Linked DNA regions of Homo sapiens. The protein of the gene in region 1 purifies or fractionates together with the protein of each later gene. This does not show direct contact. Each region holds a gene or a part of one and is shown on either strand. Other genes may lie near its edges.

What was found. Proteins that work in one complex are often made in the same cells at the same time.
Region 2: the proteins of CA6 (region 1) and DDX19B purify together in Homo sapiens (affinity purification with mass spectrometry; one large-scale study listed by BioGRID and IntAct). This does not show direct contact.
Region 3: the proteins of CA6 (region 1) and NPC2 purify together in Homo sapiens (affinity purification with mass spectrometry; one large-scale study listed by BioGRID and IntAct). This does not show direct contact.
Region 4: the proteins of CA6 (region 1) and PCSK9 purify together in Homo sapiens (affinity purification with mass spectrometry; one large-scale study listed by BioGRID and IntAct). This does not show direct contact.

The regions. Positions count from the first base shown.
Region 1 is NC_000001.11:8,944,523-8,948,819, forward strand, and holds the start of CA6 (carbonic anhydrase 6 isoform 1 precursor), read left to right. Parts: upstream 1-1,345; 5' UTR 1,346-1,352; coding exon of another isoform or gene 1,353-1,364; coding exon 1,365-1,443; intron 1,444-4,297. UniProt on the Homo sapiens protein: Reversible hydration of carbon dioxide. Its role in saliva is unknown.
Region 2 is NC_000016.10:70,309,186-70,312,685, reverse strand, and holds part of DDX19B (ATP-dependent RNA helicase DDX19B), read right to left. Parts: intron 78-3,500; coding exon 29-77; intron 1-28. UniProt on the Homo sapiens protein: ATP-dependent RNA helicase involved in mRNA export from the nucleus.
Region 3 is NC_000014.9:74,483,306-74,486,805, forward strand, and holds part of NPC2 (NPC intracellular cholesterol transporter 2 isoform 2 precursor), read right to left. Parts: intron 3,132-3,500; coding exon 3,024-3,131; intron 1,283-3,023; coding exon 1,110-1,282; intron 1-1,109. UniProt on the Homo sapiens protein: Intracellular cholesterol transporter which acts in concert with NPC1 and plays an important role in the egress of cholesterol from the lysosomal compartment.
Region 4 is NC_000001.11:55,046,048-55,049,547, forward strand, and holds part of PCSK9 (proprotein convertase subtilisin/kexin type 9 isoform 1 preproprotein), read left to right. Parts: intron 1-475; coding exon 476-599; intron 600-3,500.

The DNA.
Region 1 (4,297 bases):
TGCACTCCAGCCTGGTGACAGAGAGAGACCCTGTCTCAAAAAAGAAAGAAAGAGAGAAAGAGAGAAAGAAAAGAAAGAGAGAAAGGAAGAAAGAAAGAGAAAAAAGAAAAGGAAGGAAAGCTGAGGCACAGAGCGCTGAGTTGCCCATGGTCACACAGTTAGCAGGTGGCACAGATCCTGTCTAGTTTCAGAATCCTTGTCCTTGAACATGCTTTGCTCTCTCTCTGAGATTCTTTCAGCTCTTGAGCTTTAGAAATGGAAGTTTCCAGCAAGTTCTTTGCAGCAGCTGATGTTCCCTATTAAATGACAGTGGGGAGTCTTAGAAGTATTCGGGAGGCCTACGTTCACCGCTAACATCCTTGTTGTGAAGGCCTGCTGACGTTTGCCATTCCAGGACCAAGTGGACAATGAGTTAAGCTAGGCCAGGAGGGGGTTCAGCTCCCCATAACAAGGCAGGGGTGGCCCTTTGTGTCCGGCAGCATGGTAGCCCCCCCGCAGGAGCTCCGGCTACCCTTTGTGTTTGACCTTGTGGAAGGGCATGGGAAATGCTGGCCTGTCAGCAGGCATAAACTCAAAAGTTTCTCCTTCAGCTAATTTCAGGGACTGTCTAGCCAAGTGAATACACAGGATTAGGTAATCCATGGATCCTGCGAGGGCAATTGGCTGATTGGCTTAGGTGTGCCCAAGAGCCCTGCAGGTGTCAGAACAAATCCATGTAGAAATGCAGACGCCCACACCAGCTTGAATGGCATAAAGGCACACATTGGAATGTGGCTCATGAGCTGGGACCCAGGATCAACCACTGGTTTAAGGAGAGGACCGTGAAATGTCCAAACATGGAGGCCAGGCCACCTCCCTGGATGCCTGGCTGAGGGCAGCCACATGTCTGCAGCGGTGGCTTGTGTCCATGACTGAGATGGGCAGGGTTTGCAGGCAGTGGTGATCCCATCAGCAGTCCCCAGATCTCTAATGTCAGGAGAAAGAGCATGGGAAGTCCGACGTCCAGGAAAGTCTTTCATCCTGCTTCTCCCTGCCTTGGGCCTTTTCCCATTTCCGCGGTCACCTGTCCACAATGGCTGCACTGTGTGGCTCTTCAGGTGTTCCTAAGACACTGAACAACCAAACCCATGGACTGACCGGATATGAAATTGACGTGGGAGGAGATCAGGCAGGTGCTGGGGCTGCCTGGCGCAATGCACGGAGCCAGAAGTGCTGTTATGGGGAGGGTGTTATTGTTTTAGTGGGTGCAGCAAAGGGTGGTTTAGCCAGCTGGGCAGATCAATTGTAAATTGTTATTTACAGTTTCTGAGCCTTTAAAAGAAGAGCTTCGCCGGAATCAGTCTTCATTACAGATGTGCAGCACCATGAGGGCCCTGGTGCTTCTGCTGTCCCTGTTCCTGCTGGGTGGCCAGGCCCAGCATGTGTCTGACTGGACCTACTCAGGTGAGCCCCTAGCTTCTGCATGCTCCCCCAGTTACCCTCACACCCTTACAACAGGACAAGTGCCCTTCTTCTTCTTCTTTTTTTTTTTTTTAGACAAAGTCTTGCTCTGTTGCCCAGGCTTGAGTACAGTAGTGTGATGTTGGCTCACTGCAACCTCCGCCTCCCGGGTTCAAGTGATTCTGCTGCCTTAGCCTCCCGAGTACCTGGGATTACAGGTGCCTGCCACCATGCCTGGCTAATTTTTGTATTTTTAGTAGAGACAGGGTTTCACCATGTTGTCCAGGCTGGTCTCGAACTCCTGACCTTAGGTGATCTGCCCATCTCCCAAAGTGCTGGGATTACAGGCATGAGCCATTGCGCCCGGCCAAGAGTCCTCCTTTAGGGCATTTCACAGGATGGCCAGGCAGCCCACTTGCCATATGTTGGGGGTCTGCTCATTGTGGCTTCAGATGTTACCTTTTCAGTGTCTCAGAAGGTATGGAGAATAAGCTGAACTTAAACTTCAAATAAGGAAAAGAAGGAAATAGCTTTCCCCTTCACAAACTCCTGATTTACTTACAGGCTTTTTGCTTTAAATTTTTTTCCATCCACAGTGTTGGCTGGTTCAAAAGCACACTCACTGCTTCTATTTGTAAAACCATTTGCTTTGTTGGTCCGTGTAAGTGGAAAACAAAGTTCTTAGAAAAGACTCTCGGTAACCTCACGGAAGGTGCTGTGGGGTTTGCGAGACCTTCTTTCTTGGAAATTTCATGGTAGGCAGTTTACCCAGAACATCTTGACATAAGGACCCAGTTCCCTTTGATCTGTGGGCTGCCAAAATGAGAGGTGTTTTTTTTTTTGTTTTTTTTTTTTTTTTGAGACAGAGTCTTGCTCTGTTGCCCAGGCTGGAGTTCAGTGGTGCCATCTCGGCTTACTGCAACCTCTGCCTCCTGGTTTCAAGCGATTCTCATGTCTTAGCCTCCCAAGTAGCTGGGATTACAGGCACTCATCACCATGCCTGGCTAACTTTTGTATTTTTAGTGGAGATGGGGTTTTACCACGTTGGCCAGGCTGTTCTCAAACTTCTGACCTCAAGTGATCCGCCCACCTTAGCCTCCCAAAGTGCTGGGATTACAGGCGTGAGCCACCGCGCCAGGCCCCAAACCAGACTTTTAAAATGTGAAATGTAAAATCCTGGCATTCAACATGGGTTCTGGTCCACATGTGAGCCAAAGCTAGAAGGCCGTGTCTGTGGACTTTGTGGACACTAAACAGCCCTTTCCAGGGGCAGTGAGGAGAGCTTCTTCCCGCATCCCCCTTCTTTCCATACGGGACCATGGATTGGGGCCCATGAGGAGGCTGGTGGCCGCTGGCTGATGCAGGAAGTGAGACAAACATCTGCTTCCTGCAGAGTCTGCCCCAGTTCAGCTGCTCCGGAAGCATTCCTTCAGGGTGAACGGGATGATCTGTTAAGTCAAGGGCAACGGAATTAGGGACATCCTGGGAGGTTCAGAAAGTCCAGCCAGCTCTGAACAACCGCTCTGTTCCTGAGGACAGTGATCTTACACATGGCAGTGCCTCGGAAGCCTGGGGCATTCTGCTTCACTTGGCCAAGCAGTGCAGGCAGGTGGTTCAGAGGTGAAGGAAGAGAGAATTCAGACAATGAAGTCCTTGTCCTTCCCAGGCTCTGCCCAGCCTCTGAGACAGTGGGCTTCCTGGGAAACTACTAGGGGCTCCAGGAGAACTTGAGAGTAGCTTTTGTAAATGCCTTCCAGGGAAACCTGAGAGATGTTCCAGTATTGACAGTGCCCTGGGCCAAAGCATCTTGCTCTGAGAAGGCGTTGTGCTCCAGGCCAATTGCCTTGATTACAAACCAAAAAGCGGTGAGGGCCCTAGTACAGACACCTTTTTTTTTTTTTTTGAGAGTTTCACTCTCGTTGCCCAGGCTGGAGTGCAGTGGCGCGATCTCGGCTCACCGCAACCTCTGCCTCCTGGGTTCAAGTGATTCTCCTGCCTTAGCCTCTCAAGTAGCTGGGATTAACGGCATGTGCCACCATGCCCGGCTGATTGTTTTTTATTTTTAGTAGAGATGGAGTTTCTCCAGGTTTGTCAGGGTGGGTCTCGAGCTCCCAACCTTAGGTGATCCACCCGCCTCGGCCTCCCAAAGTGTTGGGATTACAGGCATGAGCCACCGTGCCCAGCCACAAACACCTGTCTTAAAACAAGCTGTGTACTCACCACACAGCTACCCCCGAACAGGGAACAGAGGTGGGATTCTCCATGTCACATGGCTGACTCCAAGCTCCACAGCTGTATGGGAGCCAAGTCACCATGATAATCACTCACCTATGTTACTCTGTCCCCTACGATTATCAACCCTCTCTGAAAAGATAAACTTTCTCCTTATGAATTTTAAAAAAGTACTCATTCTAGGTTGTCCTGGAACCTGATGCTTCCTTAGTTTCCCTGAATCCATAAGTGTAGACACCTAGATGGTCTTTACCATACGGGAATCCATAAAAGGGGCTGGAGCAAGAAAATAGTGGTGGGGGGTTCCTGCAGCATGGGGAGGTGGGGGCTGTGTTCCTGTTGGGGGCATGGAAGGACAACTGGGCCCTTGGGAGGAAATGAGGAAGAGGCCCCAGGAGCAGCACAGGAAGAGCAAAGCCAAGGATCCCTCCATGCATTCACCAGCTGGAAATAAGTCAAACGAGAGCAAAAATTTACGTATAAAACACTCTCAGGCCGGGCACGGTGGCTCACGCCTGTAATCCCAGCACTTTGGGAGGCCAAGGTGGGTGGATCACCTGAGGTCAGGAGTTAGAGATCAGCCTGGCCAACATGGTGAAACCCCGTCTCTACTAAAAATACAAAA
Region 2 (3,500 bases), on another chromosome or scaffold:
GTTTTCAAACTAGCTATTAGTTACTTACCATTGGTATCTGGTTTGATTTTCTCTTCCTTAAGATGCAAGTTGCTCAACTAAATGGAGAATATGGGGGAGGGGGAAAGTGTCAGGAAAAGCACTTAAAAAGATTTGGAATCAACAGAGCCTCCCTAATGAAGCTGGGGATAAAATAGCCATTCTCAAGGTATATTCATTAGGACCAATTCATTGGGTTGTTCCGTTTACTAAATGTCTGATGAGAATAAACAAAATTTCCCGTAAATACATCGGTGGAAAAAAATGCTCCAAATCTGTACCTTCTACTTAAAATTCTGTGAGAGAATTGTAATTTGTGAGTTTGCTTAATGCCCTGATTATAAACTTTCTCTCTTTGTAGAATATCATTAGAGTTGTCATTCTCTCATATTTCTTTTGTGTGTGGGGGGGAATCGCTGCATTCCAAATCATATTTCAAACAAGAGGAAATTTAAAGAGATTTTGAAAAATGCAGTCATACTTTGGAGAACACTGGGAAGGGAGGACTGTGATGAAAAGCATCTGTAAAGCCAGGTGCGGTGGCTCGCGCCTGTAATCCCAACACTTTGGGAGGCTCAGGCAGGCAGATCACGAGGTCAAGAGATCGAGACCATCCTGGCCAACATGGTGAAACCCCGTCTCTACCAAAAATACAAAAATTAGCTGGGCGTGGCGGTGCATGCCTGTAGTGCCAGCTACTTGGGAGGCTGAGGCAGGAGAATCGCTTGAACCCAGGAGGCGGAGGTTGCAGTGAGCCAAGATCACGCCACTACACCCCAGCCTGGCAACAGAGTGAAACTCCGTCTCACAAAAAAAAAAAGAAAAGAAAAGAAAAGAAAAGCATCTGTGGGTAGGAATCAGTCATACTGCAGGATACGTTAGAGCCGTAAGACCACAGTATGCTGATGTGCAGCCTCACATTCAAGTCACCTTTTGCTGGTGTCTGATACTGTAGTTGGGAACAGCCTGAAGCATTGTGGCACACTGTGTAATTAAAATACCCACTGGGCTGAAGTGGAAATAGAAAGGAAAGAGACATTTCAAAGAATAATTACTAAGACTTTGATCAAATACTGTATATTAGGGATATCCTAGCAGGTCTTATCTCCTCTATTAGAATGCAAATACCTTCCTGACAGGGCCTATTTCGTTTTCTACTGCTCCTTGAGGAGCAGGGCTACCCCACAGGAAATGTGCCCAGAGTAGCATATTTCTATTTTTGGCCTTTGGATGTAGTACAGAGCAAAGTAAGTGCTCTAGTCGTAAATTTTTTGTTTGTTTGTTTTTTGAGACAGAGTCTTGCTCTGTCACCTGGACTGGAGTGTAGGGGCGCGATCTCAGCTCACTGCAAGCTCTGCCTTCCGGGTTCACGCCATTCTACTGCCTCAGCCTCCCGAGCAGCTGAGACTACAGGCGCCCGCCACCACGCCCGGCTAATTTTTTGTATTTTCTTTTTTTTTAAGAGATGGGGTTTCACGGTGTTAGCCAGGATGGTCTTGATCTCCTGACCTCGTGATCCGCCTGCCTCAGCCTCCCAAAGTGCTGGGATTACAGATATGAGCTGCCACGCCCGGCCTTTCTAGTCGTACATTTTTATTAAAAACAAAACAAAACAAAAAAGCCTTTTTTTTTTTTTTGAGACAGAGTCTCGCTCTGTTGCCCAGGCTGGAGTGCAGTGGCCTGATCTCAGCTCACTGTAAGCTCCGCCTCCCGGGTTCATGCCATTCTCCTGCCTCAGCCTCCGGAGTAGCTGGGACTACAGGCGTCCGCTACCACCCCCAGCTAATTTTTTTGTATTTTTAGTAGAGGCAGGGTTTCATCATGTTAGCCAGGATGTTCTCAATCTCCTGACCTCGTGATCTCCCTGCCTCGGCCTCCCAAAGTGCTGGGATTACAGGCATGAGCCACCGCACCTGGCCAAAAAAGACTTTTTTAAAGGTCAGAAAGCATCTGTAAGTCTTGGACCCCAGCACAGGGATTAGATAGATGGAAAGTCTGGCGTGAGTAAGTAACCTTTCAAGCTAAAGCCAACCCTAATCATAAAATATCAAGCAGGGCCTAAGACATCATCTAGTAAAAAGAAAATGAAAATCACAACCTAATGGTTCTTTCTTTTTTTTCTGCAGACGAGGTCTCACTCTGTTGGCCAGGCTGGAGTGGTGCAGTGGCATGATCATGGCTCATTGAAGCCTCAACCTCCTAAGGCTCAGGCAATCCTCCTGCCTTAGCCTCCCAAGTAGCTGAGACTACAGGCACTCACCACCATGTCCAGCTAATTTTTTTTTTTTGAGGCGGAGTCTTGCTCTGTTGCCAGGATGGAGTGCAGTGGTGTTATCTCAGATCACTGCAACCTCCGCCTCCTGGGTTCAAACGATTCTCCTGCTTCAGCCTCCCAAGTAGCTGAGACTACAGGCATGCACCACCATGCCCAGCTAATTTTTGTATTTTTAATAGAGACAGGGTTTCACCACATTGGCCAGGATGGTCTCAATCTCTTGACCTCATGATCCGCCCACCTTGGCCTCCTAAAGTGCTGGGATTACAGGCATGAGCCACTGCGCCCAGCCTGCCCAGCTAATCTTTTATTGTAGAGTTGGGATCTTACTGTGTTGCTCAGGCTGGTCTTGAGCTCCTGGGCTCAAGCGATCCTCCTGCCTCAGCCTCCCAAAGTGCTAGAATTATAAGTGTGAACTACGCATTAGGCCGCATTTCTGTTGTCCCTCTAAGTCCAAGAACAGGCGAAAGGGGAAGGAGGGTAGAGAGGAGAGAACAAAAAAATGTTTTAATTGGTGGTTTGTTGAGAATGGAGGAGCCCCATTTCTATTTCTCTTTTTTTTTTTTTTTTTTTTTGAGACGGAGTCTTGCCCTGTCGCCCAGGCTAGAATGCAGTGGTACGATCTTGGCTCACTGCAACCTCCGCCTCCTGGGTTCAAGCAATTCTCCTACCCCAGCCTCCCAAGTAGCTGGGATTACAGGCGTGTGCAACTACGCACAGCTAATTTTTGAATTTTTAGTAGAGACGGGGTTTCACTATGTTGGTCAGGCTGGTCTCGAACTCTCGACCTCGTGATCCACCCGCCTCGGCCTCCCAAAGTGCTGGGATTACAGGCGTAAGCCACTGCACCCAGCCAGGAGCCCCATTTCTTTTTGTTTGTTTGTTTGTTTTGTTTTTTGAGATGGAGTCTCGCTCTGTCGCCCAGGCTGAAGTGCAGTGGCGTGATCTTGGCTCACTGCAAGCTCTGCCTCCCAGGTTCACGCCATTCTCCTGCCTCAGCCTCCGGAGTAGCTGGGACTACAGGCGCCTGCCACCATGCCCGACTAACTTTTTATATTTTTAGTAGAGACGGGGTTTCACCGTGTTAGCCAGGATGGTCTCGATCTCCTGACCTCGTGATCTGCCCGCCTCGGCCTCCCGAAGTGCTGGGATTACAGGCATAAGCCACCGCGCCCAGCCTCCCATTTCTATTCATGGAAATGGACAA
Region 3 (3,500 bases), on another chromosome or scaffold:
GTGACCTGGAAGATGAGTGAGTAGTTGGCAAAGAACAGGGCCAGAATTTAGCATGACAGTGATGGAACTGTGCCATTTTAGAATAATCTGCAAAGTCAAAGGTCAATGTTAATGAAATATTTTATGACCTGGTCAGACAGATAAATAGAAAAACACCAGTGGAAAAGAAACAGCCTAAAAAGAAATCATGTCTGCTGCTCTAGGCCCATAGTCAGCAGCAGCTCTGAGCTAGGTTACAGGAATGAAGAACTATTGCCTAATTGGAAAGTGCCAGCATTCCAGACTTCAAAAAATAAATTTGAAGAGGCTTCTCCTGTTTTATACATTATGTGAAGAATTTAGATCTTATATTGGTTTGTATAAGTTCCCTGGAGAAAAAAAACTGCTCTGTGTATATCTCTTGGAAAATAAGACATAACAGATGTGAAAATATACTTGACTCTAATATGATTATACAAAAGAGCATGGATGCATTTCAAATGTTAGATATTGCTACTATAATCAAATGATTTCATATTGACCTTTTTATCATGATTCCTCCCTATCAAGCACTAAAAAGTTGAACCATCATACTTTATATCTGTAATGATATTGATATTGCAGTAGATAACTTTTTTGAATCAATTACCTCATTTTATATTTTAAAAATTATGGAATATCCTCTGTCATTATATTCTAATTGAAATTGTGCATAATGCTTTGGAAAAATGGGTCTTTTATAGGAAAAAAACTGGGGTAACTGATTTCTACGACTTTCAAAGCTAAAATATACAATATACTAAACCAACTCTAATATTGCTTCTTGTGTTTTACTGTCAGATTAAATTACAGTTCTTATGTATGATTAAATTTTAGTATATTAAAAAACAAATGGCATCATTAGGCCCAGGCTAACCATCAGGTCATAGTGAAAGAATGAAGAGACACAGAGAAAAAGACCTGCCCTACCTCCTGATGCCTAACACCGCACCTATCTCCTTTCCCTCGGGCTTCTTCTTCATCATAGAGATAAGGGGCCCTTTACCCCCATCTCTGCTTCTTGCCCACTGCCCTCAGAACTCTAATCCAGTCCCAAGGCCTCCCGTGTCCTCAATAATGGTATCACTTACAGAGGGATATTCGCTTTTCACTGGTAGTTTATTCAGGTAGCTATAGGTCTTGTCTTTTTGGATAGGGCAGTTAATTCCACTCTTACAACCATCAGGCTCAGGAATGGGAAAGGGAACTGGGACGCCCATCAGGATGCCATGCACCACGGCCTTGCTGCTTTTAGACTGAATATCTAAGAGAAAAAAAGAGAATCAGATGGCAAAGAAAATAACCTATTTTCAAACTCTAAATCAAAAATTCAGAAATAATCCCAAGCAACAGCATTCCTAGGGTCTATTTCTCTTGATAGTGGTGCTTGGTACTAGCACAGTGCAAGCATTCACTCCAAACACAATTATGCAAAAAAAAAAAAAAAAAAAAAAACAATCAGCAGAAGTTTTCTTTGCTCTTAACCTTGCTCTTCATGGCCCTTCACAGTTTCTTAGGAGAATCAGAGATACCTGGATAAACAACCTTATCTAACAAGGCAACTGATTTTTGGCAGTAAACTTTCTGTTTGCTATTTATATCAGCTTCTGTCCAAGTATATTGTGTGTCTTAAATGTCATGGTCTGTAACAACAGTGAAAGAGGTAACCCTTTAGCAGGGTAAGATTAGGCTGGATCACAGTAGCTCCCACCTGTAATCCCAGCACTTTGGGAGGCTGAGGCGGGTGGATCATCTGAGGTCAGGAGTTTGAGACCAGCCTGGCCAACATGGAAAAACCCTGTCTCTACTAAAACTACAAAAATTAGCCGGGCGTGGTGGCGCATGCCTGTCATCTCAGCTACTCAAGAGGCTGAGGCGGGAGAATCGCTTGAGCCCAGGAGGCGGAGGTTGCAGTGTGCTGAGATTGCGCCACTGCACTCCAGCCTGGGTGACAGAGCGAGACTCTGTCACAAAAAAAAAAAAAAAAAAAAAAAAAAAAAAGAAATTGGGTAAGATTAGAAAGACATGCAATTCTTTATAAACTTTACCCTCCACATCACAAGATGGCCAGGAGGAATAAAGGTATTAAAAAATGAGGGCAATCAGACTTATGAGTTATTAGGGTATTTTGGAGACCCAGAAAATTGGTTCTGTTTCTTTCCTTCTGTCTGGGTTGGGGATGACTTGTTCAGAAGGCTTTTTTTTTTGGTTTGGAACAATAGAGAGGCCAGGGTATAGTCCAGAGAGGAAACAGGGAGCTAGTACTTAGAGCTGTCTTTAGGCTTATGAACAAAAGATGACAGGAACTTTGAGGTTTCTTATTAGACTGTCTAGTCTAGTTTCACAGGACAGAAAATGAGGAAAAGATTCAAGGAACATGCCCTGCTTAGTAATAAAAGATTTTACATTTGTCTAGATTCTTAAAAATCTCAAAGTGATGTGGTACAAGAAAGCAAAAAGTTCCAATGATATTTCTTGAATATTGGAGAAGAAAGCTCAGATTTCTTGGCTATTTCTTGGGTCCCCAGTGGGTTCCCTAAATCTTAAGGAGGCTGTTAAGTATTAGTTGCACCTTTATTTTCAGGTGGGATGTAGACTTAATAGCTGAAAGGCATTACTGCTTAAAACAACATTTTGGAGGAGTTCCAAAGCTTAAAGAATTGGGGTCCATACTAATACTCTGCAGTCTGTAGCTAAACAGAGCTGACATTCCCATCATAGCCTACTATGCAATATGGGTCAAGACAGAAAAGCCAAGCTGTCTTCTCTAACCTGTGAACACATGGACATCTCCCTGTTTGCTTAAAGGGAGTCTGGGAGCCATGGACCCTGCATGAGAAGGGTGTCCAAGGGCACAGTGAACCCTAGCTTTGCATGAGGTGCAAAAGAAATCATAAAATTCATGACTGCCAATTCCCCTCCCCTCCATTCCCATGCTTATTCCAACACTTGATATTTAGGTTATGCTGTAACATGAATTTGAGTTAAGAGCCACTTTTACGCACTGCTGGTGAAGGTGACATTGACGCTGTAAGACTGTCCTTTGCTCAGCTGGCAGGGTTGGGTGGGGCATGGGCTCACATTCACTTCCTTTATAACTCCATCCACAGAACCTGCAAAAGAAAAATGAATTGGAATAGGAGAATAGGAGGAGAAATAAGCCAGCTAGGCTGCCCACCACCTAATGGGAAGGTGCTCTGCTCTCCCATTTAGGGTCAACTCATTCTCCTCGGACTGTTTCCCAGGATGGAATCTTTAAGAATAATGCCCAATTAGAAGTCAGAATCTTGATTCATCTTGCTGCTAAAATCATAGCCTTTAATTCAGATGATAAAGAAGCTAGTTGGTTTTTTGATCAAGAGAAAGTTAATATTTGTCAAACTAAATAATATCAAGACCATATCCATAAATGATCATATTAAAGGAATTAAACTTCAATCAGAGAAATTCCAAACATTCCTAGAGTCTTATCTCGCATTCTT
Region 4 (3,500 bases), about 46 Mb from region 1:
CCCATTGGCTGAGCCCAACTGGAAGCTTTGCAAGGGAGCTGGTGCTGCAGTTTGCACTGAGCAGGCTGGAGAAGGCTGGAGAATAGACTAGGGGACAAACCGAATTGCCAGTGCTGTTATGTCATGATTTAGGCATGGAGTCCAGGGCCTGAGCTTCACTCCATGTCCATCCTGCCCAGAGCCTTGGCACAGCCTGGCTCCCAGACAAGATGTCAAGTTCAGAATCCTTCCTAAAAGGAATCCTCTATGCCAGACCGTGTTGCAGGGATATGGGAGTGCTGGGCTCCCAGCCTGATCAAGGAGCGAGAAAACTCAGGCTCCTAGTCTGTCCTCCGGGGCACTAGCAGGGACAAGGTGGGAGGCTGCTGGGCTGGGATGTGGGGACAGGTTTGATCAGGTAAGGCCAGGCTGTGGCTGTGTTTGCTGCTGTCCAAATGGCTTAAGCAGAGTCCCCCGGCCTCTCTGGCTTCTGCAGGCCTTGAAGTTGCCCCATGTCGACTACATCGAGGAGGACTCCTCTGTCTTTGCCCAGAGCATCCCGTGGAACCTGGAGCGGATTACCCCTCCACGGTACCGGGCGGATGAATACCAGCCCCCCGGTAAGACCCCCATCTGTGCCCTGCCCCACCCCATCTGAGCTGAATCCATTTGCTCTGCCCTGGCCTGGCCTCCCTGCTGGTGGTTTCCACTTCTCGGGGGGCTTTGGGACTCAGCACCTCCACTGACCCCTTTTTTTCTGTCCCATCCCCATCCCCTGCAGCCCCCACTGCCTGCCTTCCTGTTGCCCCACAAATGCAAAAGTCTTGCCTTAAATGATCCTCTTTTCCTTCTTTTCTCTTGTTTTCCTTTTCTCACCATTTGGAATGGCCCAGCAGGCTGCACTTACCTTGGAAGGAGGGTTCATCTGATGGTGACTCTACCTAGGGCCCCCAGGCCTCTATAACTCCCAGTGCCCTGCAGACTGGACCAGATCCTTTAATGGGATAGACACAACCCTGTCTGGGATGCCTCTGCCTACCTTCCTGTTTTGCTGCTCCACCTGCCTCCAGCTCCGTTTGGCTTCCTGGGGCTCCCTGCCTGGGCCACTTTGTGTCTTCCCTCTAGGCCTTTCTTTCCACTGTTCCCTCTGCCTGGTGTGGCCTGGCTATGGAAGGGAGGGAGGAGGAGCGGCCATGGAAAACGGTCTGCATTCTAGCAGGGACTTGCAGGTGGCAATTCAGTCGGGGAAGACTCTAGATGCACCTGGCCTGAGGAGAGAATGAAGGGTTCTAGTTGGACTGTGTTAAGTTTGAGGTGCCCATGGTGTGAGGTCTGGAGCTCAGCGCAGAGATGATGCAATGTGGTGGGTCCATGCAACATGGTGCCAGGACGCAGAGCTTGGGGTGAACTCAGCTTTCACCCCTTACCGGTTCTCGTGGGATCTTGGGAAGCCACTTTCTTCTATGAGCTTTGTCGTTCTTGTCTGTAAAATGGGCACATAACCCTGTCCCTGTCCTTCTCACAGGTTGCTGTGAGACTCCAATGAGTTGAAGGATGTGCAGATGCTTTTGGAAGTGAAAAGTTGGGGGGCTACTGTGTGACTTTGCATACACCCAAACTGTGTGACCTTGCATATGTCTGAGTTGCTGCCATTGCAACAGATCAGAGCTGGTGGGCTGGGTGTGGAGAAAGGGTTTGTGTGGGGGACATCCTCTGGCAAGGGTGGCAGCAGCAGAAGTGAGGGGCCTGGTCGGTCATGTGTGCTGACCCGGCCTGGGCAGCCTGTGGCCAGGGAGAGGACAGCTCCTCTGTAGGAAGAGCCTGTTCCTTTCCAACCAGGTGAGACCTCTTCAGTGGAGCCCTGGAGCCCCCTGTACTCCACATCAGTGCCTCAGGGACCTCCCGGAGCAGGCTAATATCAGAGACCAAGAGGGACACTGGCAGAGGATCACAGAGACCCCAGTCCAGGCAGGGACTGAGAAGATCTTGCCCCCTAAGTTAGTTTCCTAGCACTGCTGTGACAAATTACCACCCCCTCGGTTGGAACAAGTTGATTCTCTGCAGTCCTGGAGGCCAGAAGCCTGAATCAGTGTCGGCAGGACCACTTTCTCCCGGGGGGCTCCAGGGAGAAGCTTCTCTTGCCTCTTCCGTGTCCCAACAGCGGCAGCACACCAATCCCAGCCTCTGTCTTCACACAGCCTTCTCTGTGTCTCTCTCCTCTTCATTGTCTCATAAGGACACTTGTCATTGGATTTAGGGCCCACTGGATCCTCCAGGATGATCTCATGTGGGGAACCTTAACCACATCTGCAAGGACCCTTTTTCCAAATAAGGTCACAGCCACAGGTTGTGGGGGTTAGGATGTGAGTGTATCTCTTTGGCAGCCACTGTTCCCTCCTCTCCCTTGGGCCAGAAGCAGACGTGGGGCCCTTTCTTCCCCATAGGATGCCCATGGATTGCCCCCCTTCCCGCTTCCCCCGAGTGTCTGTGGGAGGTGGCAGGAATGGCAGGCAGGGGTGTGGAACCCCTTCTGGAGTCATATCAAGGGCTTGGCTGGAGGAAGTCCTCCTGGAGCTGTTGGGCTGGCATGGGGCAGGCTGGCTGGGCCCAGCAGCAGCTTCTTCATTCATGGGGAGGCCACAAGCATGGGCCCTAGAGCTGGCTGCCGCCCTCAAACCCAGACCCTGCACTCTTAACTGTGTGACCTTGCATACGTCACTCACCCTCTCTGATCTTCAGGTTCCTCTGCAAAAGGGAGGTAATGATAACCCTCACTCTGGGGGGCTGTTTGGAGGGTTAAATCAGTTATTGCTGTAGCATGCATTTCTCTGTCAGGTATTGAGTGAGGTGCTGTGATTTTAGCCCTGCATTTTTCTTTTCTTACCATTCAATAATAACGTTTTGAGCACCCACTGTGCGCCAGGCACCATATTAGGTGCTGGGGATACAAATGTGAATGAAATGAATGTGGTCTCTTCCCCCAACAGTGTATCCAGAAGATTAATCCATTCCTTAAACAAATGCTACTTGACACAGATTAGTTCTGGATAGGCTGAGAGCTCTGAAGGAGTGCAGGCAGCTGCGAGCCTGTGTATCCAGCAGAAGGATCAGGAAAGGATTCCTGGAGGAAGCGCTGTTCTAGCCAAGACCTACGGGGGCATTATTAACCAGGCAAAGGGGACGGTGTCCAAGCAGTGGAATGAACGTGGATTGAAGCTGTGAGGCAGGAGGGAGTGTGGCCTGTGCAGAAGGGACCGAGGCTGGTGAGACCAGGAGGGCCTGGGTGGCCTCCAGGTCAGATGTGAAAGGAAGAACTTGGCCACAGTCTGAGCTTCTCAGGCGTATGGCAGGGCTGCCTGGTGAGAGGGAATGAGCTCCCTGCTCTGGAGGTATGCAAGCAGGACTGGGCTCTCACCTGCCAGAGGCCACAGAGCTTTCCAGAGGCTGGAAGAGGCCACTCCAAGGCCTCTTTGCCCCTGAGAGTGGTGGCTCTTCTTGAGGCCACCTTGCCACGCTGTCAC